Linked DNA regions of Homo sapiens: region 1 is linked to region 2. Evidence: fine-mapped expression QTL. A gene starts in region 2. The other region holds a variant in brackets. All regions are shown on one strand. Distances are between the middles of the regions.

The links.
Region 1: its variant is fine-mapped to the expression of AHCTF1 in whole blood (TOPMed, PIP above 0.99).

What each region holds. Positions count from the first base shown.
Region 1 is chr1:246,955,924-246,971,168 of GRCh38, reverse strand. It overlaps ZNF670-ZNF695 (ZNF670-ZNF695 readthrough (NMD candidate)), which reads left to right. Exons shown (of 7, transcript NR_037894.2): 6 at 3,377-3,474. It also overlaps a transcript of ZNF695 not described here. Among named protein-coding and RNA genes, the nearest start is that of AHCTF1, 32 kb to the right of the region's middle. RefSeq lists enhancers at 8,587-8,636, 8,687-8,846. The variant G/A (reference allele first, on the strand shown) is at 9,116.
Region 2 is chr1:246,924,156-246,939,400 of GRCh38, reverse strand. AHCTF1 (AT-hook containing transcription factor 1) reads left to right here and starts at 7,453. Exons shown (of 36, transcript NM_001323342.2): 1 at 7,453-7,823. RefSeq lists enhancers at 7,071-7,120, 8,241-8,330 and a silencer at 7,801-7,900.

The DNA of each region.
Region 1 (15,245 bases), 32 kb before region 2:
GACTCGTGTGACCTTACCTATCATTGGAGATGGCTCACACTCCTTACCCTGCCAACTTGTCTTGTAGCCAATAAATAACAGCGCAGCCATGCATTCGGGGCCACTACCCATCTCCGCATTTAGGTGGTAGTAGTCCCCTGGGCCCAGCTGTCTTTTCTTCTATCTCCTTGTCTTGTGTCTTTATTTCTACGATCTCTCGTCTCTGCACACAAGGAGAAAAACCCACAGACCCAATAGGGCTGGACCCTACAGCGCATGCCTGTAATCCCAGCTACTCGGGAGGCTGAGGCAGGAGAATCGCTTGAACTCGGGAGGTGGAGGTTGCAGTGAGCCAAGTTTGCACCATTGCACTCCAGCCTGGGCGACAGAGCGAGACTTCGTCTCAAAACACAAAAACAAACAAACAAACAAAACACTTTGTTTTTAGCCGTTCTACTAAGGGTCTTTACTCCTCACCCTAAGTCTTCAACAAGGGCTCTCCACTCTGCCTGTTAGGAACTCACATTTACCAGCCCTGTGTCAGCTTTGGGAATTGTTTAGCTTATAGATTCCCGTCAATTAATTGTTCCTTGCCAGGCTTGGTGAGTTTCACCTTATACATGCCAGATTAGTATTCATGCCAAGTCTCAAGGGGACTCGTATGCAGATTTCTGGAGCTCTCTTTACATAGCTTCTTCCTCTTCAATACTCTGCCTCACAAATTGCAAACTGCCGTAGCCATCCCCACCTCCAGTCTTTCCTCAACTCAGCAAGATCTCTTGGGCTCTGTTTGGATTCCTTACACAACAACTCGAAAATTGCCTGCAGACAAAGAACTGGAGTGATTGTAGGGCTCACCTCTGTTTCCCTCCTCTCCGAGATCACACTTTACACTACCTACAGTCCTAATATTTGAATACAGTTGTTTCGTATATTTTGTCAGTTTTCTAGTTGTCTATGCCAGAAGGGGAACATCTGTCTCAATCACTCTTTCACTGTCGGAACAGAAGTTACTGATTTGTTCTTAACACTAGTTTACTTTGAATTAATGCGTAATTTAAAACTCAAAAACACCTGTGTTAAAAGAGCTGCTCTCTATACTAAGTGCTATGATAGCAATACTGGAAAGGATTTTAGGAGAAGATACTCAAGTTGACTCTTTAAGTATCTCTAACTTTACAAGGCCTGTGGTTTGGCTCTGCGTTCCCACCCACATCTCATGTTGAATTGTAATCCCCAATGTTGGAGGAGGGGCCTAGTGGGAGGTGATTGGATCATGGGGGTGGACTTCTCCCTTGCTGTTCTCGTGATAGTAAGTTCTCACGAGATCTGGTTGTTTAAGAATGTGTAGCACTTCCCCCTATGCTCTCTCTCTTCCACCAGCTATGTGAAGATGTGCTTACTTCCCCTTTGCTTTCCACCATGATTGTAAGTTTCCTGAGTCCTCCCCAGAAGCAGAAGCCTGTACAGCCCACAGAACCCTGAGCTGACTAAATCTCTTTTCCTTACAGATTATCCAGACTCAGGTAGTTCTTTATAACAATGTGAGAATGAACTAATACAGAAAAGTGGTACCAGAGAGTTGGGACATTGCTATAAAGATACCTGAAAATGTGGAAGTGACTTTGGAACTGGGTAACAGGCAGAAGTTGGAAGAGTTTGGAGGGCTCAGAAGAAGACAGGAAGATAAGGAAAAGTTTGGAACTTCCTAGAGACTTGTTGAATGGTTGTAACCAAAATGCTGATGGTGATATGGACAATGAAGTCCAGGCTGAGGAGTTCTCAGATGGAGATGAGGACCTTATTGGGAGCTACAGTAAAGGTCACTCTTGCTATGCTTTAGCAAAGAGACTAGTGGCATTGTGCCCCTGCTATAGGGATCTGTTGAACTTTGAACTTGAGAGAGATGATTTAGGGTATCTGGCAGAAAATATTTCTAAGTAGCAAAGCATTCAAGATATGGCCTGGCTCCTTCTAACAGTGTATGCTCATATTTCTGAGGAAAGAGATTATCTGAAACTGGAACTTACATTTAAAAGGGAAATGGAGTATTAAAGTTTGGAAATGTGCAGCCTAGCCATGTATTAGAAAAGAAAAAACCATTTTCTGGGGAGGAATTCAACCTAGCTGCAAAAATTTGTGTAAGTAAAGAGGAGCCGTATGTTAACAGCCAAGACAATGGGAAAAATGCCCCCAAGACATTTCAGAGACTTTCGTGGCAGCCCCTCTCATCACAGGCCTGGAGGCCTAGGAGGGAAAAACAGTTTTGTGGGTCAGGCTTAGGGCCCTGCTATTCTGTGCAGCCTTGGGACCCTGTTCCCTGTGCTTTAGCTGCTCCAGCTCCAGCCATGGCTAAAAGGACTCCAGATATGTTTCAGGTTGCTGCTCCAGAGGGTATAAGACACAAGCCTTGGAGGCTTCCAGATGGTGTTAAGCCTGCAGGTGCTCAGAGGGCAAGAGTTGAGGCTTGGGAGCCTCCATTCTTTCAGATTTCTGAGGATGTATGGAAACAACTGGATATCCAGGCAGAAATTTGCTTCAGGGGCGGAGCCCTTGTGGAGAACCTCTACTAGGGTACTGTGGAGGGGAAATATGGGGTTGAAGTCCCCACAAAGAGTCTCCACTGGGGCACTGCCAAGTGGAGCTGTGAGAAGAGGGCCACTGTCCTCCACACCCCAGAATGGTAGCTCCATCAACAGTTTGCACTGTGTGCTTGGAAAAGCCACAGGCACTCAACACCAGCCTGTGAGAGCGGCCATGGGGCACTAAGCCCTGCAGAGCCGCCAGAAGCAGAGCTGTCCAAGACCTTGGGAGCCTACCCCTTGCATCAGTGTGGCCTGGATGTTAGACATGGAATCAAAGGATATTATTTTGGAGCTCTAAGATTTAATGACTGCCCTGCTGGGTTTCGGACTTGCATGGGGCCTGTAACCCCTTTGTTTTGGCCAATGTCTCCCTTTTGGAACAGGAACATTTACCCAATGCCTGTACCCTTATTGTATCCTAGATGTAACTAACTTGCTTTTGATTTTACAGGCTCATAGGCAGAAGGGACTGCCTTATCTCAGATGAAACTTTGGACTTGGACTTTTGAGTTAATGCTGAAATGAGTTAAGACTTTGGGAGACTGTTTGGAAAGCATAATTGTGTTTTGAAATGTGAGGACATGATATTTGGGATGGGCCAGGAGTGGAATGATATGGTTTGGCTCTGTGTCCCCACCCAAATTTCATGTCAAATTGTAATCTTCAATGTTGGAGGAGGGTCCTGGTGGGAAGGTAATTGGATCATGGGGGCAGACTTCTCCTTTGCTGTTCTCATGATGAGTGAGTTCTCATGATACTTGATTGTTTAAAAGTGTATAGCATTTCCCCCTTTGCTCTCTCTCTCCTGCCAGCCATGTGAAGATGTGCTTGCTTCCCCTTTGCCTTCTGCCATGATTCTAAGTTTCCTGAGGCCTCCCCAGAAGCAGAAGCATGTAAAGCCCACAGAACCGTGAGTTGATTAAATCTCTTTTCTTTATAAATTACCCAGTCTCAGGTGGTTCTTTATAGCAATGCAAGAATGGATTAATACACAAGGCCAGGTCAAAACTCCTGATCTTCCCCTGAAACCTGCCCCTGCAAGTCTTCCCCTATCTCAGCTAGTGGCAACTTCATCCTTAGAGTTTCTCAGACCCAAAACCTTGACATCATCCTTGTCACCCCTTTTTCTCTTTTATCCCCCATTCATGCCATTAGGAGATCCTATCTGACCTTTAAGCTATATCCAGAATTCAACTATGTCTTGCCACCTCTACTGCTCCCACCCTTGTCCAGGCCACCAGCATTTCTAGCTTGGGGTTTTGCAACAGTCTTCTAACAGCTGTCCTTGCCTCTACCCTTGTCTTCTTACAATCTATTCTCAATCCAGTGGCTTTTTAATATATAATCCTTTTAATATGTAACGTTTAGGCTGGGTGTGGTGGCTCACACCTGTAATCCCAGCACTTTGGGAGGCCGAGGCAGGCGGATCACCTGAGGTCGGGAGTTCGAGACCAGCCTGACCAACATGGAGAAACCCCGTCTCTACTAAAAATACAAAATTAGCCAGGCATGGTGGCGCATGCCTGTAATCCCAGCTGCTGGGGAGGCTGAGGCAGGAGAATTCCTTGAACCTGGGAGGCGGAGGTTGTGGTGAGCCAAGATTGCGCCATTGCACTCCAGCCTGGGCGACAAGAGTGAAACTCTGTCTCAAAAAATAAAAACAACAAAAAAAGTAACATTTAATATGATTTATTTAATATGTAACTCCTCTGTTCAAACCCTCCAATAACTCCTCATCTCACTATCTCACTTAGAGTAAAACCTTGCAGTGGCTCACAGGACCTCCCCACAACTTTCTCATTTTGACTTTTTTTTCCTTTAAAAATAGGGTCTTGCTCTTTGCCCAGGCTAGAGTGCAGTGATGTGATCATAGCTCACTGTAAACTTGAACTCCCAGGGTCAAGCGATCTCTCACCTTAGCCTCTTGGGTAGCTAGTACTACAAGAATGTGCCCCCATACCTAGCTGATTAGAAAAAAGAATTGTAGAGACAGGTTCATGCTATGTTGCCCAGGCTGGTCTTGAACTCCTGGACACAAGTGATCCTCCTGCCTCAGCCTCCCAAAGTGCTGGGATTACAGGTGTGACTCACTGTGCCGTCTCACTTTGAATTTTTTTTGGTGGGGGGATGGAGTCTTGCTCTGTCGCCCAGGCTGGAGTGCAATGGCGCAATCTTGGCCTACTGCAACCTCCACCTCTGAGGTTCAAGTAATTCTCCTGCCTCAGCCTCCCAAGTAGCTGGGATTACAGGTACCTGCCACCATGTCCAGCTAATATTTAGTAGAGATGGGGTTTCAACATGTTGGCCTTGTTGGTCTCAAACTCCTGACCTCAAGTGATGCGCCTGCCTTGGCCTCCCAATGTGCTGAGATTATAGGTGTGAGCCACCGCGCCCGACCTCACTTTGACTTTTATTCTCTCACTTGCTCACTGTCCTCAGGCCATCTGGCCTTTTTCTACTTCCTTCACAGTTGAAGTATGCCTCTGCCCCAGGCTCTTTGCCCTTATTCTTAACTTTTCTCTTAATATTTTCCTCCAAATACTCACATGACTTGCTCCTTCACTTTCTTCAAGTCTTTGCTCAAATGTCCCCTCTCACTGAGGCCTCCCTGACTACCTGTGATATTGTGATTTATAAAAAGATATATATATAAAATATATATATATTTTTAATTTTCTGGGTTAGTTTTCTCTTGCTTATAACAGAATACCTGAAACAAGGTATATAAACAAAAAGGAATTTATTTTTTACAGTTATGGAGGCTGAGAAGTCCAAGGTTGAGAGGCTGCTCCTGGTGAGGGCCTTCTTGCTGTGGGGACTCTGCAGAATTTTTTTTCTTTTTCTTTCTTCGTTTTTTGCACTGTCACCCAGGCTGGTGGCACGATCTCAGCTCGTATGGTCGTACGGTGGAACGATCTCAGCTCATTGCACCCTCCACCTCCCGGGTTCAAGCGATTCTCCTGCATCAGCCTCCTGAGTAGCTGGGGCTACAGGCACACACGACCACACCTGGCTAATTTTTGTATTTTTAGTAGAGACAGGGTTTTGCCGTGTTGGCCAGGCTGGTCTTGAACTCCTGACCTTAGGCGATCGGCCTGCCTCAGCCTTCCAAAGTACTGGGATTACAGGCGTGAGCCACCATGCCCTGCCAACTCTGCAGAATCTTGAGCAGCGCAGGAAATCACATGGCAAATGGGCCGAGCGTGCTAGCTCAGGTCTGTCTTGCTCTTCTTTTTTTTTTTTTTTTTGAGACAGAGTCTCTCTCTGTCACCCAGGCTGGAGTGCAGTGGCGCTATCTCGGCTCACTGCAAGCTCCGCCTCCCGGGTTCACGCCATTCTCCTGCCTCAGACTCCCGAGTAGCTGGGACTACAGGCGCCCGCCACCATGCCCAGCTAATGTTTTATAGTTTTAGTAGAGACGGGGTTAGCCAGGATGGTCTCCACCTTCTGACCTCGTGATCTGCCCACCTGGGCCTCCCAAAGTGCTGGGATTACAGGCGTGAACCACCGTGCCCGGCCTGTCTTGCTCTTCTTGTAGAGTCATCAGTCTGATTCCCATAATAAACCATTAATCTGTTAACCCATGGATTAATCCATGAGCAGACTAATCCATTCATGAGGGCAGAGCCCCACGACCCAATCACCCCATAAAGTTCCCCCATCTTGCAGTACTGCCACATTGGGGATTAAGTTTTTATTTTCTAATTTATTTTTTATTAAATTTTTTTTTGAGACAGAGTCTCACTCACTCTGTTGCACAGGCTGGAGTGCAGTGCCGCGATCTCAGCTCACTGCAACCTCCACCTCCTGGGTGCAAGTGATTCTCATGCCTCAGCTTCCTGAGTAGCTGGGATTACAGGCATATGCCACCATGCCCGGATAATTTTTGTATTTTTAGTAGAGATGAGGTCTCACCATGCTGGCCAGGCTGGTCTTGAACTCCTGACCTCAAGTGATCCACCTGCCTTGGCCTCCCAAATTGCTGGGATTATAGGCATGGGCCACTGGGCCCAGCCAGGGATTAAGTTTCAACATGAGTTTCTGAAGAGACAAACATTCAAACCATAGCAATATTTGTCTCCAGTCCTTTGGCATAGAGTTCCTAAAACCCTTTAATTTCCTGAGTAATAGGGGCGTTAGGAGAATCTTTTGTTCTGATATTTGGTCTTTGATCTTGGTTCCTGACACAGAGATCCTGATCACTTGGAATTTCCTGGGTAATAGTAGCGTCTTTTTTTCTCATGGGGCACCTCTTGGTGGGCTCCTGGATAGGGCTGGTCACCAGAAAGACCAAGCCATGATTAGAAACTTGGAACTTTCAGCTCAGCTCCCCATCCTCCATGAAGGGGAGAGGGGCGGAAACCTGAGTTAGTAATTGGTGGTGCCTATGTGATGAAGCCTCCATGAAAATCCCTGAACTGTGGGGTTTGGAGAGCTTCCGGGCTGCTGAACACGCGGAGGTGCTGGAAGGGCGATGCACCCTGGAGGGGGCGTGGAAGCCACCTGCCCCCTCCCCCATACCTGGCCCAATGCATCTCTCCCATCTGGCTGTCCATCTGTATCCTTTGTAATATCCTTCCTAATAAACAGGTGAACATAAATAAAGTGGTTTTCTGAGTTCTGTGATCCATCCTAGCAAATTATCAAATCCAAGGAGGGCACCATGGGAACTCCAGTGTACAGCCTGTCAGTCAGGAACACGGGTCACAGCCTGGGGCTTGTGACTGGCATCTAAAGTAGGGGCAGTCTTGTGGGACTAAGTCCTTAAGCTGTGCAATCTGACTCTAACTCCAGGTACATAGTGTCAGGATTGAGTTAAATTGTAGATCACCCAGCTGGTGTTGGAGAATTGGTCGGTGTGGGGAAAACTCCACACACATTTTAGCAACCGGAGAGGAAGTATTCTCTGACAAGTATGACTGTAGAAGAGAAAGCAGTTGGTTTTTCCTATTATACACAACTCCATTTAAAATCGCAATAACCCCCGCACCTGCTCTGGCACTGCCAGCCTTCTTCCCTGCCGGATTATTCTCCATAGCACTTGTCTTGTCATCTAGCGTAGAATTTACTTGTTTGTTCGCTTCATTGTTCCTCCCCTCCCACCACCATCACCACCACTGGAAGGGAAGCTCTACAAGTCAGGAAGTTTGCCTGTTTTTTATTTTTCTTTTTATTATGTTCTGTAAAATCAGAGTTTCACTCTGTTACCTAGGCTGGTCTCCAGTTCCTAGCCTCAAGTGATCCTCCTGCCTCAGCCTCCCAAAGTACTAGGATTACAGGCATGAGCCGCTGCACATGGCCAGTTTTGTCTGTTTGATTCACTGATGCCCAGCACCTAGATTAGTGGCTGGCACACAGTCACCTTTAGTAAACGTGTCATGAATAAATGAATGCAGAAGCAGTGGCAGGGGTGAGCTAGTTAGTGAAGGATGGCCACTTCCGGATGAGGGAATAGCATGGAAAAGCACTAAAGGCAGAAGGAGTGTGACATGATCGGAAATGGACATTAGATGAATATAGCTGGAATGAGGGGCATGGAGAAAGGTGGCAAGAGACAGGAGCCGGTTTGCCTGCTAAGGTGTTTGGACTTCAGCCTAAAGGCAGCGAGGAATCGTTGAAAGGTTTCAAGGCCGGGCATGGTGGCTCACACCTGTAATCCCAGCACTTTGGGAGGCCCAGATGGGCGGATCACAAGGTCAGGAGATCAAGACCATCCCGGTTATCTACTAAAAATACAAAAAAAAATTAGCCGGGCGTGGTGGCGGGTGCCTGTAGTCCCAACTACTCGGGAGGCTGAGGCAGGAGAATGGCGTGAACCTGGGAGGTGGAGCTTGCAGTGAGCTGAGATCGTGCCACTGTACTGCAGCCTGGGTGACAGAGCGAGACTCCGTCTCAAAAAAAAAAAAAAGAAAGGTTTCAAGCTGGCAGAAGGGGGTCAGAGAGGTGATGAAATCTGATGTTAGTAATTTAGAAAGATCACTCTTGCAGAAAACATCAGCTTAGAGGTGAAGAGGCCAGCCCCACGGAAGCCACTTGCTTCTCATTTTAGTAACTCTGATGATCAATGATGAGGACCTGAATTAAGTCAGTGGCCAGAGCCATTGAGAGGAAAGGGGATGGATTTGAGAGGTATTTAAGAAGTAAAATCTTTATGACGTGGTAAACAAATCGTCTGTGAGGTATGAGGCAGAGCAAGAGGCTAGGACGACCACCAGACTTCTTGCTTGGGTGGCTTGAGGGATGTGATGCCTTTCCCTGAACTCTGGTGTAAAGCAGTCGTGCTGCCTTGCTAGCCATATTCCTGTGACTGGGCCATGAGGGCCCAGTGCTGATGGGGCACAAAGCCCAAGCCATTCGTCAGTGTTCCCTACGTGTGCAAGCCCAGCTGGTGACAGGAAGTCTGACCTGAGCCCCACTAGTCAGCAGCCTCTCCTTCATTAGGAAAGACCAAGCCTAGCATATAAACATTGCTTTAATTTGTTAGCCAGGGCTTTGTGGCTTCCTGCCGCCTTGACTGCCCTATGAAGCAACCAGAGAAGGAAATTACACAT[G/A]GATTTCCTTAAAGAGAAGTTCAGATTTCTCTAAGGTTATAAAGATACAGGCAGCAGTGATCGTCACCACCACCGTCTGCCATGACAACTCATATGTCTGCAAAGCACAGTGCCATTGAGGTGCCTCTCTATGCCTCTGCGTTCTTGAGATCTTTTCCCTTAACTGAATGATGAAGGGAGTGATGAAGAGGGCCCTTTGCTAAGCAGCCTGGTGAACACTGAAGTCAATGATCACAGGAGTCAGATCACCCTTACTACTAAGTTCAAGCTATCTGAACTCCCTTCCAGAATGGGAATGAGGCAGGCTGCAGGATGTGGAGCCCGAGGGCAGCACCCAAGAAAATAGTCTAAAGCATCTTTTGCCTATCTCAGGGACCAGTGGGTGACAATTGGGTCTGAAGCAAAATACTATAAGCAGAGGTAGCAAGAGGGAGTAGGTGAATTCAGTAGAGTGAATGGGAAGCATCCTGGAAAGATTCCCTGAGTGTCTTGGGAAGGAGAAGCAGAGCCTTCCTGTACGTATGAAGAGAGCTGTGAAAGCAACACTCTTAAACTCAAGCAGCTTATAGAACAATGGCCCTGCAGTTTATGGAATGGAGGTGGCAGGGAGTAGCAATAATGGGGCTTAGGATTTAAGAACAGGCACTGTGGGAGGCAGAAGATTTGCATTCATTCATTTTAAAAGACTTTATCGAGTATCTACGTGCACATGAAATAATAGGTAGCAATATAAGATTGTCACATGAACAAATAAACAGCTCATTATAGGCTGGTGCAGCTGGAGGTGGCTTTGAATGCATATATAACTTCTAATGAAGTGTTATGCCTAATTAGTGGAGTAACGTATATAATTTTTGAACTGATGATGCTAAAGATGAGAAGTTTGAGTTACATATGCATTATTTGATGTTAAGACTTATACCCCATGATTTTGAAATAGCTAAGTTTCTTGGTCATCAACTGACCCTACTATGAATTTCAATGAGTGAATCAAGTCAGGAAGCCCACCTTCATAGTGAACATGTTTTAAATGATAATTGAAATAGAAACATTTTTGAGCTCAAAAGACCTTCATAGATTCTTTACTTTTACAGCTCTCTCTACCATTCTTTGTGTTGTTTTTTGTTTTTTGTTTGTTTGTTTGAGACAGGGTCTCCACCCAGGCTGGAGTGCAGTGGCGTGATCTCAACCAGTCCAGGCTCAGGTGATCCTCCCACCTCAGACTCCCAAGTAGCTGGGACTGCAGGTGAGCACCACCATGCCCAGCTAATTTTTATATTTTTCTAGAGTTTTGCCATGTTGCCCAGGCTGCTCGCGAACTCCTGGGCTCAAGGGATCCACCGGCCTCAGCCTCCCAAAGTGCTGGGATTACAGGTGTGAGCCACCATGCCTGGCCTGTACCATTCTTTGAAGGATAGATAGCTATCTTGAACTATGGAGAAATGATCTGAATTTGTAGACAGAAATGAAGAAAAGAACTTGTCTTGCATGGCCAAGTAGGTCTTGTATAACCTTATCACTCTGAATGGAAACAAATGGTTCTCTGGGGCATATATATAGAGAGAGAACATAGGTAGTATTCTATACTGCTACACAATACCAACTGTTTTTACTTTTACATATATGACAAACAGCATTGGAGAAACTAGCAAACCACTCCAAAAGAAACCACACTCTATATAATATAAATTTTTCCCCAAACTGCAATCATATCAGCCTGCTTGAGTACAGCAAAATGCATCTAGGTTACTGGGAAATCTTAGGGTGGCAGTGTTGTTCACTCTAAATATATTAGTGTTCCAGATAAAACTGTGGTTCCCTTTTTGCTGATATGTTTACAATTTCTTTGAATAGAAAAGAGGAAGTATTACAATATGAGAAAGTTTCCTTAAATAATGACGTGGCAAAATGTGTGAAATCTGAGAGGAAAAGCAAGCAGTTAAATTATTCATGAAGCTTCTCAACTGGGTTTTTCAATGAGATTGGTTTGTTTCAAATAATACATTGTGAAATATGTAATCTAACATACTTAGAGGAAATGAAGTTCAGTGAAATTGACTGTTGCATGAAGATAGCAGCTTACCAAAATACATAACCATAGTTATGAAAACTCATACATTGCTACGGAACTAATGGATCAGAAACACTGGAGAGTTTTTGCTTCTGAGGAACAGTCCACTTTCACCGCCTATCTTCAGAACCGCCACGGAGAGGGAGAACTAAGAACATCTAGCTGTTAATTTCCTGCATCATTGGTGCAGAATGTGGCACATTGTAAGAAAAAGTGACAAGCTCAATAGTCTAGGTTCTAAAAATATGCCCATTTTGGGCCAGGCACGGTGGCTCACACCTGTAATCCCAGCACTTTGGGAGGCTGAGGCTGGTGGATCACGAGGTCAGGAGTTCGAGACCAGCCTGGCCAAGATAGTGAAACCCCCATCTCTACTAAAAATACAAAAATTAGCCGGGTATGGTGGCGCTCGCCTGTAGTCCCAGCTACTTGGGAGGCTGAGGCAGGAGAATTGCTTGAACCCAGGAGGTGGAGGTTGCAGTGAGCCGAGACTGTGCCACTGCACTCCAGCCTGGGCAACAGAGTGAGACTCTGTCTCAAAACAAAAACAAAAAAAATGCCCATTTTGGGTTCTAGAATAAGCAGATAATGTGTTTTCAACATTTAAATGCTTCTTTCAGAAAAGAGATTTTATATATATATATATATATATATATATATATATATATATATTTTTTTTTTTTTTTTTTTTTTTTTTTTTGAGACAGGGTCTCACTCTGTCATCCAGGCTGGAGTGAGTCCTGTGGTGAGATCATACCTCACTGCAGTTTCAAACTCCTGGGCTCAAGCAATCCTCCTGCCTCAGTCTCCCAAGTAGCTGGGACTACAGGTACATGCCCGGCTAATTTTTAAATTTTGTTGTAGAGACAGGGTCTTGCTATGTTGCCCAGGCTTGTCTGAAACTCCTGGCCTCAAGCAATCCCACCTTGGCCTCCCAAAGTGCTGGGATTACAGGTGTGAGCCAACGCACCTGGCCAAGACACAGTATCTGATTCGCTGACATCTGAGGAGAGTAAGGATAATTTACAGTATCTGATTCATTGACATCTGAGGAGATTAGTGATAATTTACAAGACACTTCTTCTTCCCCGTGAGTGGCACTCGCTTTCTTAAACCAATAGCAAACACACTTTTCACCTTAGAGGACTTCACTGTCCCCGCGTGTTACTATGGCTGCATAACAAATCACCCGAAAATGGGGTGGCTTAAAGTACAACAATCATGCGTTACATCGTGTATTATCTCGCACCGTTTCCATGGTTAGAAATTCACACCAGGCGTAGAATGGATGGCTGGTTTCTGACCCACATTGTCAGGGATATCAGCTGGAAGACTCAAAGGCTGGCGCCTGGACTCTGAGGGATCATTCACTCAGGATCATGACAGCAGCTGATGCTTGCTCATGGCTGGGGACTAGCTGAGGATGTCAGCCAGAATTCCTCACTAGACCTGTCTGTGGCCTGAGTCTCCTTACTATGTGATGGCTGAGTTCTAAGGGTAAGGATCCCAAGAGAGAAGGAAAAATAAATGGAGGTTTCTTCATTTTTATGACCTAGCCTTCAAAGTCACATATTTTGTGACTTTTTGCCAAACTTCAATACTGGGGCAATCATAAGACAAGTCCCGGCTGGGTGCAGTGGCTCACGCCTGTAATCCCAGCACTTTGGGAGGCCGAGGAGGGCAGATCACGAGGTCAGGAGATCAAGAACATCCTGGCTAACATGGTGAAACCCTGTCTCTACTAAAAATACAAAAAATTAGCCGGGCGTGGTGGTGTGCACCTGTAGTCCCAGGTACTCGGGAGGCTGAGGCAGGAGAATGGCGTGAACCCGGGAGGCGGAGCTTGCAGTGAGCCGAGATCGCGCCACTGCACTCCAGCCTGGGCGACAGAGCAAGACTCTGTCTCAAAAAAAAAACAAAAACAAAAACAAAACAAAACAAAACAAAAACCAAGTCCCTGCCTAGATTCAAAGAGAAGAAACATAGATCCAACGTCTCTGTGGGAGAAGTGTCAGACTCATCATAGAAAAGGCATGTAGGATGCATGTAGTAATAAATATACAGGTGCAACCATCTTTAGAAAATACAAGGCTGGGTGTGGTGGCTCACGTCTGTAGGACCAGGAGTTTGGGACCAGCCTGGGCAACATGGCAAAACCTGTCTCCACTAAAAATACAAAAAATTAGCCAGGCTTGGTGGTGTGCACCTGTAGTCCCAGCTACTGGGGAGGCTAATGTAGGAGTCACCTGAGCCCAGGAGCTCGAGGCTGCAGTGAGGTAAGATCATGCCACTGCACTCCAGCCTGGGCAAGCTGAGTGACACCCTATCTCAAAAAAAAACCCAATCTGCCACAATGTGTTTCTAGAAAGGTATTGAAGGTTTATCTCATATTGCTACATAATTTGAATTTTAAAATATTTTATTATAAATATCTGCTCACGTGGAAAATTTAGAAAAAGATGAAAAGAATAGTCCAATATAGTCCTACCACCCAAATTAACCATAATTAGAGAAGATTAAAGTTTTCTTATAGTCAGACATACGATTTTCTGCTGTGGTTTCTTCGTTGCTTGTGTTCCCCAATTCTTTTTTTTTTTTTTTAGACGGAGTTTCGCTGTGTTGCCCAGACTGGAGTGCAGGAGCCTGATCTCAGCTCACTGCAACCTCCAACTCCCTAGTTCAAGCGATTCTCCTGCCTCAGCCTCCCGAGTAGCTGGGACTACAGGAGTGCACCACCACGCCCAGCTAATTTTTTGTATTTATTAGTAAAGACGGGGTTTCACCATGTTGGCCAGGATGGTCTCCATCTCTTGACCTCATGATCTGCCGGCCTCGGTCTCCCAAAGTGTTGGGATTACAGGCATGAGCCACCGCACTCGGCCTGTTTCCCAATTTTTAATTAAAAACTTGAAAGAGTAGTACAAAGAATACCATTTATTCTCCATATAGATGCAGATAATACTAACATTTTATTAATTCAATATTTGCTTTATCTCTTTTTTTCTTACTGAACCAATAGAAAGTTCATTTCACATATCATGATACCACCTGTAAATATTACAGTCACAACATGCATCTCCTAAGCATAAGGACGTTATACTGAGTAATCACAACAACGTTATCATCTCAAGAAATAGGCCCAGCGCAGTGGCTCATGCCTGTAATCCTAGCACTTTAGGAGGCCAAGGTGGGAGGATCACTTGAGGTCAGGAGTTCAAGACTAGCTTGGGCAACACAGCAAGACCACATCTCTACAAAAATAAAAATAAATAATAACAATAATAGTTTCATGATATCTAATAACATAGAATGGGCAATTCAATATTAACATACCCCCAATTATCCCATGATCTTTTTTTTATTTTTGGAGGCAGAGTCTCACTCTGTCCCCCAGGCTGGAGTGCAGCGGCACAATCTCGGCTCACTGCAACCTCTGCCTCCCGGGTTCAAGTGATTCTCCTACTTCAGCCTCCTGAGTAGCTGGGATTATAGGTGACTGCCACCAGGCCCGGCTAATTTTTGTATTTTTTGTAGAGACGGGGTTTCACCATGTTGGCCAGGCTGGTCTCAAACTCCTGACCTCAAGTGATCTGCCTGCCTCAGCCTCCCAGAGTGCTGGGATTACAGGCATGAGCCACCGCGCCCGGCCCCCATGACCATCTTTTATAGATTTTTTTAAAAATAATGATCCAATCGGCCGGGCACAGTAGCTCATGCTTGTAATCCCAGCACTTTGGGAGGCCGAGGCTGGTCGATCACGAGGTCAGGAGTTCAAGACCAGCCTGGCCAACTTGGTGAAACCCCATCTCTACTAAAAATGCAAAAAAATTAGCCGGGACTGGTGGCCGAAGCCTGTAATCTCAGCTACTTGGGAGGCTGAGGCAGAGAACTGCTTGAACCCAGGAGGTGGAGGTTGCAGTGAGCCGAGATCATGCCACTGTACTCTAGCCTGGGTTACAGAGCAAGACTCTGTCTTAAAAAAAAAAAAAAAAAAAAATCCAATCCAAACTAATATCTGGCATGTGGGTATCTTTGGTTAATGTCCTCATCTGGCTCCCG
Region 2 (15,245 bases):
AACAGAACAACACCAGAAGGCAAGCATGAGTCTTGAGGTAAAGGTTGAAAATAAATAAAAAACGCAATGGTGTCTGAGTACACAGCTTCTAGTCAGCAATTGCAGGACAGTCACACGCTATGCAACTAGGTATTGGTCAACTACTGACTGCAAATGTAACTATGGTCCTCGAAGATTATAAAGGAGCTGAAAAACTCCTATTGCCTGGTGACATAGCCATCACTGACACCATACTGTAATTACTTGATTTCTTTATAAATGTAGTGTAGCCTACGTGTGCAGTGTTGATAAAGTCTACAGTAGAGAACAGTGAGTGTTCTAGGCCTGTGTAGCCTATGTGTGCAGTATTGATAAAGTCTACAGTAGAGTACAGTGAGTGTTCTAGGCCTGTGTAGCCTAAGTGTACAGTGTGGATAGTCTACAGTAGAGAACAGTGAGTGTTCCAGGCCTGTGTAGCCTAAGCGTACAGTGTTGATAAAGTCTACAGTACAGTACAGTAGCGTCCTAGGCCTTCACATTCACTCCTCACTCACTCACTGAGAGCAACTTCCTGTCCTGCAAGCTCCATTCATGGTAAGTGCCCTAGACAGGTGGACCATTTGTATCTTTCATACCACATTTTTACTGTATCTTTTCTATGTTTGGATGCACAATTACTCACCATTGTGTTACAATTGCCTACAGTATTTGGTGCAGTAACATGCTGCACCGGTTTGTAGCCTGGGAGCCATAGGCTATCGCATATAGTCTAGGTGTGTAGTAGGCTATACTATTCAGGTTTCTGTAGGTACACTCTGATGTTTGTACAACAATGAAATTGTCATTTCTCAAAATGTTTCCCCATCATTAAGTGACATGTAACTGTATTTCAAGAGCTGTCATTAAGGGTGTTCTTTGGGTTTAAGTAACAGAGAAATCAGAATCTGAATAGTTTTAGCCAAAACACACAGATTTGTTGTTGTTGTTGTTGTTGAGACGGAGTCTCGCTCTGTCGCCCAGGCGGGAGTGCGGTGGCGCGATCTCGGCTCACTGCAAGCTCCGTCTCCCGCCATTCTCCTGCCTCAGCCTTCCGAGTAGCTGGGACCACAGGTGCCCGCCTAATTAGCCCGGCTAATTTTTTGTCTTTTTAGTAGAGACGGGGTTTCACCGTGTTAGCCAGGATGGTCTCGATCTCCTGACCTCGTGATCTGCCCGCCTCAGCCTCCCAAAGTGCTGGGATTACAGGCGTGAGCCACCGTGCCCAGCCCACACATAGATTTTTTAAAGTAACCTTTGAAGAAAATAATGTGAAAAAAACGGAGAAGTAGAAAGAGGAAAAATTTTAAGGAACAGATTAATTGTGGTACCTGTTAATGACAAATATTACCAGTGTTTGGAGAAAGAAATATAATCTGGCTTTTGGGGGGGGGGTACCATTCACGCAAACAATTTTTCAAATGCATAAAGACTATGATGACAAAAATATTTTACAATTTAAATGTTTGTTATTACTTTTCTTCTTTTATGACTGTAGGTTTGATTTAATGTTGAAGGGTGGGCCAGGCGTGGTAGCTCATGCCTGTCATCCCAGCACTTTGGGAGGCCAAGGCGGGTGGATCACCTGAGGTCAGGAGTTCAAGACCAACCTGACCAACATGGTGAAACCCCATCTCTACTAAAAATACAAAAAAAAAAAAAATTAGCTGGGCATGGTGGTGCATGTCTGTAATCCCAGCTACCCAGGAGGCTGAGTCAGGAGAATCGCTTGAACCCAGGAGAAGGAGGTTGCAGTGAGCCGAGATCACGCTACTGCACACCAGCCTGGGCAACAGGGCCAGAGTCTGTCTCAAAAAAATTTTAAAAATTAAAAAATTTTAAAAATTAAAAATTAAAAATGTTGAAGGGTGGCAGAGGATGGCACCCCAAAATATGCCTTTTGGCATAAGGATTATTTTGAGCTAAAGGCAGTTGAGAAACGGCTGATACAAAAGGGAAACGCTGCCTTCCTTGTCCCAGGAGAGAAGAAACATTCTAGTCATCAGAGATGTGGAGTCAAGGCTGAGAAAAATCTGAAAAAAAGTTAATTGTTAAATTAACTTGTATCTTTAGCATCCCAACACATGTCCACAACCGTCACTCTTAGTTCAACCTACTATAGAAGCATTTAGGTTTTGTCATGTCTTTGGGTCTTCATTTTCCTATGGGGGCTCCCATGTACATGTAAAAATCTGTGTACTTTTCTCTGTTTTTAGAGATAAGATCTCGCTCTGTTGCCCAAGCTGGAGTGCAGTGGTCCGATCATAGCTCACTGCAACCTCAAACTCCCAGGCTCACGCTCAAGCAATCCTCCTGCCTCAGCCACCCAAAATATTGGGATGGCAGGTGTGAGCCACCTTGCCCAGCCCTTTCTCCTGTTATTCTCACTTGTGTCAATTTAATTCTCAAACCCAGCCAGAGAGCCTAAGAGGGTAAAGGTAAAGTTTTGCTGCCCCTACAATTTTTTTTTTGTTGTTGTTGTTTTGTTTTGAGACAGGGTCTCTTGCTCTGTCACCCAGGCTGGAGTGCAGTGGCACGACCACCGCTCCTGCAATCTTGACCTTCCAGGCTCAAGTGATCCTTTCACCTCAGCCTCCCAAGTGGCTGGGACTACAGGCATGTACCACCATGCCCGGCTAAGTTTTGTATTTTTTGTACAGATGGGTTTTTGCCATATTGCCCAGGCTGGTCTGGAACTCCTGGGCTCAGGTGATCTGCCTGCCTCATCCTCCCAAAGTGCTGGGATTACAGCTGTGAGCCACTGCACTTGGCTTATTTTTTAAACAAAACAAAAAATCCATCCCAAAAAATTTGTAGCAAATCATTTGACAATTCATTTCACCACCTATAAAATAAGGTGTTTGGCCTAGAATATCTCTAAGGTTCCTTATAATCTAATATGGCATATTTTGCTTTGTTTTTTTTTTTTGCATATTTTGCTTTGAATGATGAATTATTATTTGCTCAGTCACTAGACAATGATTTTAGTATTTACGCTCTGGCCATTGTGCCATCACTGGACATAGAGTGGGGAACAGGAAAAATATGATTGTTCATTCACCTAGTTTATTGTCAATTGGAGAAATCAAGGGTGGGCACTGCTTGCTATAACCAATCAACTGCACAAAAATGATGAACATGTACCTGTTAGGACAAAGACAGTTTTCTCTGCTCGAGACAGATAAGCTCCATTTTTGTTGTTGTTAAAGTAATAAGGCTTTCCCTGTTACTTTGCAAAACAATTGGAGATCTAACTCAGAACGCTTCAATGAAGTCCTGAATTCCCTGAAATCAGATGGCCGCTAGTCACTCCCAGGATGCTGGAATGGTATTAAAATATTGCCTCTTGGCCGGGTGCAGTGGCTCATGCTGTAATCCCAGCACTTTGGGAGCCCACGGCGGGTGGATCACTTGAGGTCGGTAGTTCAAGACCAGCCTGGGCAACATGGTGAAACCCCATCTCTACTAGAAATACAAAAATTAGCCAGGAGTGGTGGCACAGGCCTGTAATCCCAATGGGAGGCTAAAGCAGGAGAATCGCTTGAACCCGGGAGTCGGAGGCTGCAGCGAGCTGAGATCATGCCACTGCACTGCACTCCAGCCTGGGTGATAGCGTGAGACTCCATCTCAAAAATCAATCAATAAATAAAATTTTTAAAAATATTGTCTCTTGAATCAAATATTCCAGATGGAAGCATGAGGATTTGTACCAGTTATTATCCATTTCTAGGCCTTTTACCAACATAACTTAGGACCATATAGGTGAAAACGGAATGAGGTTCTAAGGAAGGCATGTACTTCCCTTTCATCTTTACAACAGTTCTGCAAAGAAAGTGACATTATCTTTTCTTCTTAGCTGAGAAAACAGGCTCAGAGAGTGAAGTAATTTCATAAAAGTCATGTTGCTAGAAAGTAGTGAAACGCAGTAAACCCAAGTTTGTCTGGCTCCAAATGATTTCATTATTTTCACCACAACATGCTTCTTCCAGTGAGAGAAAGCTTTGAAGCCGTGTTTACCAGAGTCTGTTCTGTGAAGCACTAATAAGGCAAGATGTTACACAAGTGCAAATGGATGCCATGGTCAAGCAACTCTGGGGAATGCCAAGCATATTAAAGCCAGTGAAGTCTTACAGAAAATACATTTTTATTTTTATTTAATCAGCTTTTCCCCCAAACTCATTTGATTACCAAATCTAGATTTTTCTTCATTTAACACTTATTAACATCTCTTGAAACCAATTAAAATAATCTGGTATTTGCTTAGTTAAATGTCTGAAAGAAAGAAGAAAAAGGATTGAATGAGAGCTTTAAATTGGAAATTCAGTTTGCAAAGCAACTAAAATAAAAAACTAGCAGTTATGGGGGAAGCATTTTAAAAAGATACAGTCTGTGCTCCCAGTGCAGCTGGGAGATGGAGATGGTGGGTGGATGGAGAGAGTCAGAGGCAAAAAGGGAAACAGACATGAAACAATTCAGACAGCATATTTCGCTCAAGTTTTTAGTGATTCATGTGGGCTGAAGCTGAAGAAAAGATTGGGAAGAGGAAAGAGGCTTGAGCTGGCCCCTGAGGGATGTTAAGATTTACTCAGGGAGAGAAGAGGCTGGGAGACACTGAAAGAGAAAACAGGTTTGGAGAGTTAAAAAACAAAACAAAACAAAACAAAGCTCAGGAACTATATAGGGAAATAAAATACGACAGGTAGAGTTGGTCTAGATTATGGACAATTACACAGGCCAGGCCAGTGTCTCACGTCTGTAATTCCAGCACTTTGGAAGGCTGAGTCCAGCAGATCACTTGAGCCCACAAGTTTGAGACCAGCCTGGGTAACATGAAGAAACCCTGTCTCTACAAAAAATGCAAAAATTAGCTAGGAGTGGTGGTATGCACCTGTAGTCCCAGCTATTTGGGAGGCTGAGGTAGGAGAACTGCTTGAGCCCAGGAGGTCAAGGCTACAGTGACCCGAGATTGTGCCACTGCACTCCAGCCTGGGTAACAGAGCAAGACCCTGTCTCAAAATAAGTAAATAATAAAAATATAGACAATGATACAGAAATCATTCTGTTGATAATGATGGAAAGGATTAAAATCTGAAAGACTATGTAGACAGTCAATCTGGATAATATGTGCAATTAAAATAGATTTTTGAATTTCACAACTGGAAGGGCTCTTAGAGCAAAGTTAATAAATATCTGTCTAATGAATCAGTCAATCCCTTGCTCTACACATCTGATAACTGAAGCCCAGAGAGGTCACTTGATTTTCCTAATGTCACACAGCTCACTAGCAGCACACCTGAGTTGATAATTCATGTCTTCTGACTATCGAGAGGTACAGTACTCATGAACTGGGCATAAAACAGTGCCAAAGAAAGTGTAGAATATGGAGCATGTGACATAAATCAGCACATCCAACAGAGGGTGGTTTCTGTTTGAAGAGATCTCTTTAAAATAATTAAGACAACGAACCCCAAACCTCCTACTGCAAAAGCAGTACTCTTTTTAACTGTTTCTATCACAACTTGGTCCAATACCTTGTGCAAACAAACATGATATGTATGGAGGTTGCTGTTACTAAAGAAACAAAAATTACAGAAAAAAGAAAATTACATTTCCAAAAGGCAGCATTATCTCTGAAAGAATATGGGCCAGGCATGATATCCATGCCTGTAGTCCCAGCTGCTCGGGAAGCTGAGGTGGGAGGATAGCTTGAGCCTAGAAGTTGGAGGCAGCAGTGGCACTGATGAGGCCATAGTGCCTGCGAATAGCCATGCACTCCAGTCTGAGCAACACAGCAAGACACAGTCTCTACAAAAATAAAAATAGGCTGGGCATGGTGGCTCATGTCTGTAATCCCAGCACGTTGAGAGGCTGAGGCAGGAGGATCTCTTGAGCCCAGGAGTAGAGACCAGCTTGGGTAACACAGTGAGACAGTCTCTACAAAAAATAAAAAATAAGGCCGGGCGCGGTGGCTCACGCCTATAATCCCAGCACTTTGGGAGGCTGAGGCAGGTGGATCACGAGGTCAAGAGTTCAAGACCATCCTGGCCAACATGGTGAAACCCTGTCTCTACTAAAAATACAAAAATCAGCTGGGCATGGTGGCGCACACCTGTAGTCCTAGCTACTCTGGAGGCTGAGACAGGAGAACCTCTTGAACCTGGGAGGCGGAGGTTGCAGTGAGCCGAGATTGTGCCACTGCACTCCAGCCTGGTGACAGAGCGAGACTCCGTCTCAAATAAATAAATAAATAAATAAATAAATAAAATAAAAAAATTAATGGGACGTAGTGGCGCATGGTGGTCCATGCCCATAGTCCCAGCTACTTGGAGGGCTGAGGTAGGAGGATCATTTGAGCCCACGAGTTCGAGGCTGCTGTGAGCCTTGATTACACCACTGCACTCCAGCCTGGGCGACAGAGCGAGACACTGTCTCAAAAATAAAAAAATTTAAAAAGCACATATGAAAGGTAACAGAAAAGTAGAAACTTTCCTGATAAAAGAGCATCTTCTTAAAATCCCTACTCTACCTCATGTTATAATCCTTTTACTTACTACTTAGTATTAAGGATACGTTCCCTATCTGTTTGAAACATGTTTGGCGCTGGGATTTGCTTCAAAGGAAGATACTAACAAGAAATAAGAAATTCCACAATGAAAACCCGCGGTGACCAAAAAGATAACAGTGATTTGGGGTAAAATTTTGACTAAAAAGATTAGGCTAGGCTGCGCGAGCATTTTTGGCCATGAAAGCACAGGAGGATGCTAGAAAAAACAGCACCGTGGAAAAAGCGTTTCCCCAGAAGTCTGGGAGCCCACCTTTGGCATGAAAAGCGGGAGCACAGGTTGTAGTGAGCCAAGATCGTGCCACAGCACTCCAGCCTGGGCAACAGAGCAAGACTCCGTCTCCAAAAAAAAGAAAAAGAAAAAAAGAAAAGTGGGAGCACAGAACAGAAAATACAGAATGCAAGCTGCCAATTATGGGAGAAAGATTATCACTCGGCCCCCAGCTGGCAGGGCCACACGATTACGTGACAAGAGAGTCCGCCTGCAATCGCAGCAGGCGGCTGGCAGAGCCCGGCGCGACCCCCAGCGAAGACTACCACTCCCAACTGCGCACGGGGCGCGCCGCCGGGGCCGCCAGGGCGGCTTCACGCGCAAGGCACTGTGGGACTCGTAGTCTTTCTCCCCACCAGCTCCTCGGAGGCGGAGAGACCCGATTTTTTTGTAAATGATCCGCCCTTCCAGGCCCTGCTTCTCTTTCCTCCCTTTCCCTCCCACCTCCTTCTTTCACCGAGAGTTTGAAAATTCCCGCGGAGCCGGCGCTAGAGCGCGGAACCATCGCGAGAACTCTGGTCCCTGCAGCCGCGATCTCCCGCCGGTTCTCCCCTCCCTCTCCGCCCTTTCCTCTGCTCCCTCCCTTCCGGGGCGTGTGGAACTCGGTTTTGTCGGCGCAGGGTAATGCGCAGAGCGGGGCCGGCGCTGTCCGAGGCGAGCAGGCAGCGTTGCAAGGGGAAGGACCCAGAAGCGCGGCGGGAGCAGCGACTGCGTTTTAGCCGCTGAGCGGTCTGCAGGCCTACAGCCCGCGAAGGCACTCTCGGGGGCGTGTGGCTCTGAGGTGGCCGGGGAGGTCGCAGGCGGCGGCCGGAGCGCAGAGGAGCGGCTTCAGCCGGGCGGAGGGGTGTGAGCCCGGCCCGTGGCGGCCACGTCTCCCGGGAGATGCTGTGACGGACCCGCACGGGAGGAGCTCGCGCCTGGCCTGGCGACCCGGTGGACTCGGCCCGCGGCGGCGCGCTCACCCGCCCCGTTCAGGTAGGGGGAAGGGAGGGAGGGGGTTGGGCCCGCGCGGCGGAGGGCGGGTCGCGCGGCCTGGACCCGCGGCGGCGGCGGCGGCGGCGGCGGCGGCGGCGGGGCTTCTGCCCCGCGAGCGCCGGGCCTAGGCCGGGCGTGCGCGGGGCCAACGGATGGGGCTCGAGGGGGCGAGCGGTGGCGGTGGCGGGTACGGCAGGCTCGCGGGCGCCGGGCTTCGTTACATAATCTCGGACCGGAGGAGCGGCGGCACATGGCGGCGGAGCGGCGCTGGTGGTTCGCGTCCTGCGCCGGCAGTCGGGTCCCTTTACGGACGGCCGGGGCCGCGACCCTTTCCCACTGTTCTCCCACGCGATGGACTCGTTGGCGGGCCTTTCCCCGAGGGAAGCGGCCGGCGTGCTGAGCCTGTCCTGTGTTGGCGTGTGTTCCACATGCGCTTGGGCCTGGCCACAGTGAGTAGTCCTGGCGGGGAAGAAGTTGGACTCGGGGCTCAGCCGTGAGGTTCCAGCTCACCCGATTGGTCAGATCAAGGAGATTTAAAATAAAAGCACATCTTGGGGTGCTTTGCCTTCCTTTTTCCTACCTGGGAAACAGGACGGTTTCTTTTGCCACTGGTTGACTGTTTTGGTTTGGGTGTTTTGTTTTGAGAGATGGGGAAATTTTGTTCTCAAAGCTTACGAGGTTCATACTATCTGTGTGCAAAGTTTTATGAGATGAGCGTTATTTTTATTTCCAAATCGTCAGTTGTAGAAATTTTTGGAAGAACTGGGTTCTTCATAGAACAAAACGTAAATCCTTTGGGGAAATCCTAAACGATATTTATTCTCAGAATATCCTAAAGAACCTGTAGATTTTAAGAACTGTCTTTGGCTGGGCGCAGTGGCTCCTGTCTGTAATCCCAGCACTTTGAGAGGCTGAGGCGGGAGGATCGCTTGAACCCAGGAGTTTGAGACCAGCCTGAGCAACATGGCGAGACCCCCCCTTTTTTTTTTTTAAACTGTTTTTTTGTGAGCTTTCACTGATAGAGTCTCTTAGGAGAGAAGAAATTAGAGTGGTTTACTTATTTCGGAGGATTTGACCTGGGATGACAAGCCCAGTTAAGGTTAATACTTGAAGGGATGTTTTAAGTGTGCCAAGCGCTATGGGAAGTCTACGTTGTCTCTGTACTGTGATTTTTGGATCCTGATCCTTCAGTAACATACTACCAAGCTGTCACGAGTTTGCAAACAACAATAATTATCTTGAAAAAATTTTTAAAACATCATGTCAACCGGGAATTGGTGGCGCCTCTAGTCGCGCGCCTACTTGGGAGGCTGAGGCGGGGGGAACGTTTGAGCTTCAGCCTCAAACTGAGAGTTCGAGGGTTGCAGTGAGCTAGGATCGCGCCGCTGCACTCAGCCTGTGTGACAGAGCGAGAACCTGTTGCTAAAATAAAATAAAAAAGATCGTTATACATCAGTTTTGAGACTTTTGTTTTCTTTTTATGCTTCTCCTTTTTCATAGGTACAGATACATCTTTTTTTTTTTTTGAGACGGGGTCTTGCTCTGTTGCCCAGGCTGGAGTGCAGTGGCACAATCTTGGCTCACTGCAACCTCCGTCTCCCAGGTTCAAGCGATTCTCCTGCCTCAGCCTCCTGAGTAGCTGGGATTACAGGCGCACGCCACCACACCCGGCTAATTTTTGTATTTTTAGTAGAGACGGGGTTTCACCATATTGGCCAGGCTGGTCTTGAACTTCTGACCTCGTGATCCGCCCGCCTTGGCCTCCCAGAGTGCTGGGATTACAGGCGTGAGCCACCGCGCCCGGCTGGTACAGATATATTTTAAGAGGAAGCAAAACGTTGTGTCTTTCACGCCTACCTTTAATATTTTCAGGGACTTTTCTTTCTTCCCAGAATGAAGTGTAACTTCCCTCGGTTAGCTCAAAGGTCTCTACAATAAGTATATGCTACTGTCTATCCTCATATGTTAACAAATTTTATGCTTTTGCTATTCCAGAATCGTCATCAATCCTGGACTCATTCTGTGGAAGAGATGTTTCCACTCTGATGTTTCTTTGCTCATGTCCTTCATCCTGGAGTGCCATCTTTCCTTTTTTAAATACTCAAATTTCAGGTCCTCCTTCTAAATCCAATGTTTTCACTGTATTTTTATTTTTATTTTTATTTTTTTGAGACGGAGTCTCACTTTGTAGCCCAAGCTAGAGTGCAATGGCGTGATCTTGGCTCACTGCAACCTTCGCCTCCAGGGCTCAAGCGATTCTTGTGCCTCAGCCTCCCGAGTAGCTGGGACTACAGGAACGCGCCGCCACACTCGGCTAATTTTTTGTATTTTAGTAGAGACGGGGTTTCACCATGTTGCCCAGGGTGATCTCGAACTCCTGAGCTCAGACGATCTGCCCACCTCGGCCAACCAAAGTGCTGGGATTACAGGCGTGAACCACCGCACCCAGCCCACTGTACTCTTTTATTTCCCCTTATCCCACTTTTTTACTGGGATCTCACAGCATATGTACCTCTATTGTAGTAGCATTTATTCTTTGTGTCTGATACTCTGATAATTGACTATATATCTCCTTTTCTAGATTGTAAACTCCTTAAAGTCAGGAAGAAGGTTATCTTCTTGACCTTGCATTCCTTTACTAACACGGTGTTTTAAAAGTAGTTTGTGATTTTAAAATGTTTGAATTAAGTTGGTAAGAAATTTCTGAAAGGCTTGAAGTTTCTGGGTCCACTGGTAGTTTACATTTAAATGACAATTCGTCTTTTTATTAGTCAAAAAGAAAAAAAGTACCATTGCATACAAAGTGGTTTATAGAAATGTTTGCTTGGTACATGTTGCAATATAATTGTTGAACTAGATTAGAGTTCCATTTTCTGTGGTGGAATTCAGTTACTGCAGGAATTTGTGTATTTCACACAGAAAACTGATTTATAGTATTCTGTTTTTAGTATCTGGCCTAGTAATTTTAAGAATTTTGTTTTGTTTAATACTGAACCAGTGTATACTTAAAAATAATTGGGCCCAATCTTGAGTTTTAAAAAATTGATTTTATTGTTTAACATGCCTATTTCTTGTCTCTGCTAGTATCCTAATAATATCCTGCTATACAGTATCCTGTTATCCTAATTTATTACATTTAGGACCTGTTAGTCCAAAGGCACTGTGACCTTGTCGAATGCCCAGGAATAAGATTTGGTGATTTTTGCCTTTTAGGAATTCATAGTGTAGTGGAGAAGACAGGCAAGCAGAAGTAATTTTTTTTTTTTTTTTTTTTTGAGACGGAGTCTCGCTCTGTCGCCCAGGCTACAGTGCAGTGGCGCGATGTCGGCTCACTGCCAGGTCCGCCTCCCGGGTTCATGCCATTCTCCTGCCTCAGCCTCCCCAGTAGCTGGGACTACAGGTGCCCACCACCACGCCCGGCTAATTTTTTTTGTATTTTTAGTAGAGATGGGGTTTCACCGTGTTAGCCAGGATGGTCTCGATCTCCTGACCTCGTGATCCACCTGCCTTGGGATTACAGGCGTGAGCCACCGCACCCGGCCGAACAGTATTTAATTTAATTAATTAATTAATTTTTTGGTGGCGGAGTCTTGCTCTGTCGCCAGGCTGGAGTGCAGTGGCGTGATCTTGGCTTATTGCAACCTCTGCCTCCCAGGTTCAAGCGATTCTCCTGCCTCAGCCTCCCAAGTAGCTGGGACTACAGCGCGCTACCGCGCCCAGCTAATTTTTGTATTTTTAGTAGAGACAGGGTTTCACCATGTTGGCCAGGATGGTCTGGGTCTCTTGACCTTGTGATCCGCCAGCCTCGGCCTCCCAAAGTACTGGGATTACAGGCTTGAGCTACCGCGCCCGGCCATGAACAGTATCTTCATTCAAAGCCAGTAGAACGTTCCTGCTCTGCCTATCTAGCCTTTGGAAAGGAATTGAAACTTAGTAAATTACTTTTTATAGGTTGCCAGTGCTGGCATGTCATAAAAGGCTGGGATTCTGTTTAATTTTGTACAGTACTGAACGTAGGTGTTTCATGTGTGTTTGTGTTTTCATATACCTTTATATGAGATATTCTTTCTAATAATATAGTTTTTCTTTTTGAGACAGTCAGGCTGTGTTGCTGAGGCTGGAGTGTAGTGGCACCATCTCAGCTCACAGCTACCTCCACCTCCCCGGTTCAAGCGATTCCCATGCCTCAGCTTCCCAAGTAGTCGGGATGACAAGCGTATGCAGCCGTGGCTGGCTGCTACATTTCTTGTTTTTAGTAGAGACGGGGTTTCACCATGTTGGCCAGACTGGTCTCTAACCAACTCCTGACCTCAGCCATTCTCCCGCCTTGGCCTCCCAAAGTGCTGAGATGACAGGTGTGAGCCACAGTGCCTGGCCTATTTCTTTCTTTTTTTTTTTTTGAGACAGAGTCTCGCTCTGTCGCCCAGGCTGGAGTGCAGTGGCACGATCTTGGCTCACTGCAAGCTCCGCCTCCCGGGTTCACGCCATTCTCCCTCCTCAGCCTCCCGGGTACCTGGGACTACAGGTTCCCGTCACCACGCCCTGCTAATTTTGTTTCTGTATTTTTAGTAGAGACGGGATTTCACCTTGTTAGCCAGGATGGTCTCGATCTCCTGACCTCGTGATCCGCCCGCCTTAGCCTCCCAAAGTGCTGGGATTACAGGCGTGTGCCACCGCGGCCCGGCCATACACTTTTGTTTGTTTTGAGACTTGTTTGTTTTGAAACGGGGTTTCGCTCTTGTTGCCCAGGCTGGAGTGCAATGGTGCAGTGTCGGCTGACTGCAATCTCCGCCTCCCGGGTTCAAGTGATTCTCCTGCCTCAGCCTCCCAAAGTAGCTGGGATTATAGGCATGCGCCACCACACCTGGTTAGTTTTCTGTATTTAGTAGAGACGGGATTTCACCCTGTTAGTGAGGCTGGTCTTGAACTCCTGACCTCAGGTGATCCACCCACCTCAGCTTTCCGAAGTGCTGGGATGACAGGTGTGAGCCACCGCGCCTGGCCCCTATTTCTAATAATAGAGTGTTTCGATGTTCTCTGTAGTGTGCTTAAATTGGAAAAGTCTTAAAACCAATTTTGCCCTATAGATTCAAAGGCTGTTAAATTTGAAAAACTTTATTAAACATTTTTTTGAACTCCTTTGTGCTAGGCACCATGATGAAGTCTGGAGAAATAAGTACTCCTCTTTTCTAGAAGCTTGGATATGAAAGGGAGGAAGACAGAATATAGTAAAGCACAATGTTACATGTATTATTAAGTGCTAGAACCTGGATTCAAAGTTTGAATTAGAAATACGTTAGCCTGTGTTGCTATAAAGGAATATGTGAAACTGGATAATTTATGAAGAAAAGAGGTTTATTTTGCCTCATGGTTCTGCAGGCTGTGCAGGCATGACACCAGCAGCTGCCTACCTTCTGGTGAGGGTGTCAGGAAGCTTCCAATCATGTCAGAAGGCAAAGGGAGAGCAGGATACTCACATGATGAGAGTGGGGAGTGAGGAGGTACCAGGCCTTTTTTTTTTTTTTTTTTTTAAAGACAGGGTCTCACTGTCGCCTAGGCTAGAATTCATTGGTGCAGTTATGGCTCACTGCAACCTTGACCTCCCAGGCTCAAGCAATCCCAGTAGCTGGGACTACAGGCAGGCGCCACCACACCTGGCTAATTATTTTTCGTAGAGATGAGATTTCGCCATGTGGCCCAGGCTGGTGTCAAATTCCTGGGCTCAGTCAGTCTGCCTGCCTCAGCCTCCCAAAGTGCTGGGAGCCACCATGCCTGGCTTTAAACAGCCAGATCTCATGTGAATTCATTACTGTGGAGAGGACACCAACCCATTCATGAGGGGTCCTCTCCCATGACCCAGACACCTCCTACCAGGCCCCACCTCCAACACTGGGGATCACATTTCAGTATGAGATTGGGAGGGGACAGTTATACAAACCACATTAGGTTTATTTTTTATATTTTTAGAAACAGGATCTTGCCCAGGCTGGAGTGCAGTGGCCTGATCATAGCTTACTGCAACCTACAACTCCTGGTCTTAAGAGATCCTTCCGCCTGAGCTTCCCAGAGTGCTGGGTGTACAGGCATAAGCCATCATGTCTGGCCACAGTTTAAATACTGTGGCTTTATTCTCTTAGAGCTAGTACTTCTATATCATCTTTGTTTTGCATTCAAACAACATAACAAAACTCACCCAGCCTAAGAAATAGAACATTTACTATATTTCATTTTCCAAAAAATGCTTTTTGTGTGTTATCCTTTGGACTTTGGATTTTGTGAAAATCTTTCCAAAATTGTATTGAGATGATTTTGATTGAAGTATAGGGATCATGGAACTTTTTTGCTCATTATCCATTAGCACTCTTCTGAATACACTTTGTAAAAAGCTACTGCATGGAATTCTGAAGGTTTTGGTTCTGGTTGACTTACTTTGGTTTTAAGTTTAGTAGGAAAAATGTGTTAACTTCAGTTCATCATTAAACTAGTTTTATCAAGCTATATAAAAGGCTGTCAGAGGGGAAAACAACATAGTAACAATGTGATTCTGGCCTTTTCCATCTGTTTCTCTAAAAATTTTTTTGGTACTAAGCTACTTAGGAGATGAATAGGGTCCATTTGTGTATATAAGAGCAACTAAGGCTTGAGTATAGGACCCTCATGAGGGTTTTGTATTGGAGGCTAATGGTCATAGCTTCCTATTGATGCACACCTTTATATTAGGTTAGACTTTTGGATCTGTTTTGGATAATAAAAAGCAAACTTCTACTTTTGATGACTTGGAAATCTCAAACATAACTTTTTAGGTTTTGTGACTTAATGGTGACATATGTGATTAAGTTTTTGAGGCAGTCCATCAAGTTTTTGTCTAGGAGATAGCATTTATAGCCTGAACAGAAAATGATAACTCATATATTTTAATTTTTTGAGTGAATCTTTGAAATGTTTTTTTCACATAAATTTTTTTGGGGGAGGGGACTAAGATGTGGAGAGAATAAGAATGACAAGAAAGAACGTTAGGTTGATTTTTGCCTTGTTCCCATCCTAAGGCTACATAAATATGTACTGTATTTTTAAAGTTGCATTTTTATTTTATATATATATGTTTTAAAATTCTTTAATTATTGATTTTATAAGAAATCCAAGCCATACTGAAATGAGCAAATCACAAATTTGCATCACACAAAAATAAACGGCACTAATGTTTTGTGAATATTTCAGATATCTCTGTTTAAAGATAAACAGATGGAAGAATTCATAGAGATTATTGTATGAAATGCTAATTTTTAGAAATAGTTAATTTCATAAGAAAACTGAAAGGAATTGTTAAATTTATAGTAGTTCTTTTAATGTAAATATTTCTTTATAAATTTTTTAAAGTTAAACACATCTGTTAGAAGTGGCTGTTATCCTGTTATTTTACCA